Regions from separate parts of the Homo sapiens genome. Here region 1 is linked to region 2. The links come from fine-mapping of genetic effects on gene expression. A gene starts in region 2. The other region holds a variant in brackets. All regions are shown on one strand. Distances are between the middles of the regions.

Region 1 (2,917 bases), 41 kb before region 2:
TTGTGACCTCTAGTTAGCTGACGTCTGTTCTGTGCCAGGCACTGGGCAAAGTGTTTGGCTTATGTTATCTCTAATGTGCACAAATCTGAAAGGCAAGTCAAATCGCCAATCCCCATTTACAGTTGAGGAATCTGAGGCTCAGGGAAGTCAAATATCTTGCTCAAGTTCACATAGCTGGCAGGTGACAAAGCCAGGATTTGAATCAGGCATGCTGACTCACAACCGTTGCCACTGTGAAGGCTGTTCCTAATCTATGCGATGTCCTAGTCACCACCTCTACCCCGACACCGTGGCCATGCCCTTCTCTCATCACTTGCCCTTGTGGTGGCTTTACTGCTACCAACCAGAAGAGGCCTTCGTAGGTAACTGACTCTGTTTTACAACAGTCTAAAAAAGAATTGGAAGAATTTATGCCAAAACTAAAATCGTTGCTTGGGGCAAACTCTAATATTCAAGTAGGCAATGTTAAACCAGCCCTATTAACTCTTATGCTCTTATCCCTCTGCGGCATATTTACATAAATTCCCCCAGACGGCACTGTCTAAATACATTGGTCTCCATTTCAGACGCTGCCTGGAGTCACTAAGTTTCTCCTAAGATTGGGGAAGGCAACTGGTGATCACTTTCCTTAGCTTTTCCAGGCTTCAATCATGTTTGCCATGGGCTGTGGATCATGAGGAAAAGTTTCTCTTCTAGAAATCCTCCAGCTAATAAACGAAGAGAGGGCAATAAAATTAAAATATTATCATTTCACAAACCTCTATGGAAGTAAGTCTAGGCAAGGGTCATCCATGGCTGCTACCTCACAGAAAGAGAGACAGCTGGTCATTGTGTGCCTCCTCCTAGATATGAAATGCTACTTAGGAAGGATTCTTGCCGAAAGCATTGTATCTGGATCAAATCAAACCAATTCTAGATTCACCTAACAATTGTGAAATTGCCAGAATCAAAATGGAGTTGGCACTGTTAAAAATCAAAACAAACCCTGACAAATAGGCCTGTGGAAGACCATGAAGACAGGTTCTCATGCTTGTATGCCTAATAACAAAACTATCACAAAAGCCTCAAAAACCACAATCTTGCACAATGGCCACTGCAACCTTACACAAAAAATACTTCTACAAGGATATCTGCCCAGCAACT[G/C]CCTGTTCAACTGCATTGGGATCACCCTTGTTATTAATCTTTATGGTCAAGTATAATCATTTCCAAATAATTATGTAATCCTCCTCATTTTTTCCTTTAAAAACCTTTGTCTTTCTTTACCTCCCTGAATCCATGCATAGTTTACTATGGCAGGCATATTCCCATTGCAATGATCTATACCCAAATAAATATTTTATTTTAGAAAGCATTTCTCTGTCATTCAGGTTGACAATATAAGAGGAAATCTCTTTGCAGTGATTGTGTAGAAGATATGGAGACATTCTCTGTATTGGCATTTTTCTATGTCCGCCCTTGATGAAAGCAAAGGACGGAACATTAAAGGGCAACTGAGTAAAGACTTTCCATAGCAGTGTTAGTTAATGAGATCCATCCAGGATATAGCTTTCCGGTAATCAATTTGATTCCAGAATAGCATAAGAGACCTAGAAGAGTACACAGTCAGATACCAAAATTTACCTAGAAAAATCTTAGACTGTTGTCCAAGCGTGGTGGCTCATGCCTGTAATGCCAGCAATTTGGGAGGCTGAGGCAGGCAGATGATGAAGTCAAGAGATTGAGACCATCCTGGCCAACATGGTGAAACCTCGTCTCTACTAATAATATAAAAAATTAGCTGGCCGTGGTGGTGCACGCCTATAGTCCCAGCTACTTGGGAGGCTGAGGCAGGAGGATCGCTTGAACCCGGGAGGCAGAGGTTGCAGTGAGCTGAGATTGTGCCACTGCACTCCAGCCTGACCACAGAGCGAGACTTTGTCTCAAAAAACAAAAACAAAAACAAAAAGAAATCTTACACTGTTTTCAGAAATCACACTTTTAGCAATGATATCAATATTAATTATTCTAAAATATATATAGTAAGGCAAGTAAGTAATTATGTTAATATTGTCTGCAACCAAGATTTTAGGTAGAAGAGAGAAGATAGATAAATATAAAATCAAAGGAGCTAAATTTTAAAAAACGCTGTGATACTAAATTCAAGTTCAAAATATTAGTATGAACTCACGATGCATTTTCTTTAAAGTAGTGTTTTCAATTCTGTCCACTGAAAAAAGCTGGGAACAATGACCAATTCTTAAGCAATGGGCAGCCCTAAAGCCAGCTTATAATTTTTTTTTTTTTTTTTTTTGAGACAGAGTTTCACTCTTGTTGCCCAGGCTGGGGGGTGCAGTGGCACAATCTCAGCTCACCACAACCTCCGCCTCCCAGGTTCAAGTGATTCTCCTGCCTCAGCCTCCCAAGTAGCTGGGATTACAGACATGTGCCACCACACCCAGCTAATTTTTGTATTTTTAGTAAAGACGGGGTTTCACCATGTTGGTCAGGCTAGTCTCAAACTCCTGACCTAGTGATCCGCCTGCCTTAGCCTCCCAAAATGCTGGGCCTGGCCCTATAATTTTGAAAAATCATTGGAAAATGATATTTAAAGGAATCAAGCCTCCTTGGAGAAATTGCTGACCATAGTTCTGGGGCAGGAAAAGTACATGTGCCTAGCACATTTGACATACCAGACACCAAGGAATTTACTAAAAACTGTGATTGTTTCGAAGCATTTAGAAGCCAAAATTAAGTGGCTATCACTTGGAAAGTATGGAAAAATTTGAGAACAAGTAAGAACAATGACTTTGATGAATTTAAACAAATCAAATGTGTTAAAATCCATGAGATCATAATTACACTTGACAGCAAATACTCACTGACCACCTTTAGTGGATGCCAGGGAACCACATTATAAACATGAAAATACGGGGCAGGA
Region 2 (2,917 bases):
TGCTGCCCACACTGTCAGTAACCAGCTCCTCAGGCAGACTATCATTTGCATGGGAAAACAAATACGGTTAACATCACCCACTGCCCATGGGCTTCCCCCTTCCTCAAAGCAGACTTGGATGAAAGAAGAGCTGCACTCAGAGCTGGCACAAAGGCAGCTGGAAAGAACCAGCAGACTCCAAAGATGGCTTGAAAAGCAACAAGTTAATGTTGCTGGGGACCAGCTGGTCAGGTTAGCTGCTCTTGTCTAAACTTGGCTCTTAATTGCACCAGTGTCCAGCAGGTTTTGTGCCTCAGTGGGAAACACGTGGCAATGACATCACCCTCCCCTCCCCTGCCCACTGCAACCCTGGCTGGACTGGACAGGCACTTATTGGAACTTCCATGTTTAGTAAAGTTGCCTTGATGCTCTCCAGCTGCCTGGAGAGCATCCACCTGCCATTATTGGGGGTAGGGGGGAAATTTTCTGTTTAAAGTTTATGCCTCAGCTGTGCCCTCTTACCCACAGATACCACTTTTAAAACATCCCGGCTCCAAACCTAGACACCCTGGCAGAGAAATGACCTGCTCATGTTCAGACCTATGAAATTTGCAGAGAAAGTGCCTCATTCTTAAAAAACCACATCCATTCTCAAGAGTTCTTTAATTCAACTCAGATTCCTTTTTTGAGTCAGGGTCTTGCTCTGTCACCCAGGCTGGAGTGCAGTGGCACGATCATAGCTCACTGTAGCTAGCCTCCAACTGCCAGGCTCAAGAGATCCTCCACTTCAGCCTCCCAAGTAGCTGGGACTACAGACCTGCACTACCACGTCCACTAGTTTTTTTATTTTTATTTTTATTTTTTGGTAGAGACAGTGGCCTCACTATGTTGCCCAGGCTGGTCTCGAACTCCTGGGGTCAAGTGATCCTCCTGCCTCGGCTTCCGAAAGTGCTGAGATCACAGGCCTGAGCCACCATTCTCAGATCCCCTTCTTGAAGCAAATCAGAAGGCTGAAGACTCCCCTAAATGATATTCAACAACTTCTCTACAACTTTCCCTTTGCAGACTGCCTCCCCTAGCCGGGAGGTCTGTTTTTCCGGCTACTGGTGATAAAGTATAAGTACTTACGTTGCAATCAGCAAGATGCACAAACACTCCTCTCCCACCCTCACCCCCACACTCCGTACCCCAACATCTCGCCACTAACCAGGACGACCAGCCGGTTTTTTAGTCTCAAAAGCAGCACCTCAGTTGGCAGACTTACATTCAAACAACAAATACATAAAGCATCATTAAGGGCTGCCCTCTCTGACCACTCGATCTGTAGAGGGAGGTGACCCTTCTACCGAATTGAACTAAGGAACCTGCTGATGAGAAGCGACATCCTTTGCACTTGAAGCTCTGACCCCTACCAGAAAATCCCAGTGCTGAGCGCACGTTCCAGGGGTTCTTTTCTCAACTTCGAAAGTTCTGCGGGCTGGGAAACTCCCACTCTCTCCCTTCTCCGTCTCGGGCCGTCCCCCTTACTTGGCTCGGCCGGATCGGCGTCGGGGCGTCAGCGTATCGCGTGGGTCCGCGCTGGGATACCCGGGCCAACGAGCGGGGAGTGCTGCGCTGTGCCCGCCGTCCTTGCCCGCCGCCTGCAGCCGCCGCGGCCGGGCGGTTTATAACCAGCCCAGCCGACCCGCCGCGGGGCTTTTCCGTGACGTCAGCGCCCCCGCCGGGAGGGGGCGGCTCTGCAGCAAACTCGGAGTTGCAGCCACTTGGCTAAATCAGTTACTCGCAGTCATGTGACCCCTTCTCTCTCCATTTAAAAAATAATGACAGTTCAATCCTGGGCCTCCTTTATTTTGTTTTATTTTCTTTTTACCAGATGAACACAGGAAAATGGAAAAATACACTAAGTGACACTTAATCGTCCTTCCCAGCAAAGCACTTGCGAGCTGTCGGGATAAAGGATGGAAGGGAGAGGCAGGTTTGAGTTGAGAACTCAGTTTTGCCAAGAAAACAGAGATCAACCTGGAATGCGCAGAGACTTTAGCCTCCAGGATGAGACTGCAGCCACCTTGAATAGCCAAGGCTTGTTTTAACCACATCTTCTGCAACGAAGACAGCCTTGTCACCTTCTTCTGGATAGGGGGAAGCAGATGGAGCCCCACAAGGCTTTGTTTCCCTTCTCTGGCAAGGACCCAGAGAGAAGGGGCCAGAAAGAGGTGAGGAAAGAGGACAAGACCTTGAAAAGGGCAGTTTGGAAAAACAATTTAATTGAGGATCCAAGCAGATTGTGCTAAATATTGCTGGCCCTCCTGCTCTGGGCCAGAATGCTGAGGCTCCTCAATCAGGGAATTTAATCAGCATCCCAATCAGCAGCATCTCTGTACCAGGCTCCCTGGCAAGGCTACGCCTTGGGCATGAGCCAATACAGCCTGGCCATGGGGAGGAGCACTGAGACCAACACCCCTGTAAGAGACTCCTGTGAACAAAGGGCACAGGATAATAACTACTACTACCATTTATTAAGTACCTCTGAGGACCTCTGCTTAGTAGGTACTGTTAGGCCTCCTGGGACCTTAATCCTTACTATACTTCTGCAAGGTGGCTCTATTTCTACCCTCATTGTATGGAGGAGGAAGATAACATAGGGCCAGAGAATTTGCCCAAGGTCACACCGCTGGTATAAGTGGCAGGGTCAGGACTCAAAGCCTGGTTTTCCTGAGTCTCTGCACTGCACCACCAAGTGAAGGATTTCAATGACCTCTTTCTGGGGACATGGGTATTTCCCAGATGCTGTGTTTAGAGATGATGCTGGCCTCTCCAACATATCTGCTTTTCCAGCCAGCTTCAACTCTGGGTTGGCTGGTGGCTCCGGGAAGCAGCCAAAGGCACCAGCATCTATTGAAGCAGCTGGACTCTGCTGTGATTAGAGTCAATTCACAGT

What was found.
Region 1: its variant is fine-mapped to the expression of GEM in whole blood (TOPMed, PIP above 0.99).

What each region holds. Positions count from the first base shown.
Region 1 is chr8:94,219,580-94,222,496 of GRCh38, forward strand. No RefSeq gene overlaps it. Among named protein-coding and RNA genes, the nearest start is that of CDH17, 12 kb to the left of the region's middle. The variant G/C (reference allele first, on the strand shown) is at 1,144.
Region 2 is chr8:94,260,699-94,263,615 of GRCh38, forward strand. It overlaps GEM (GTP binding protein overexpressed in skeletal muscle), which reads right to left and starts at 1,621. Exons shown (of 5, transcript NM_005261.4): 1 at 1,392-1,621. RefSeq lists a silencer at 863-932.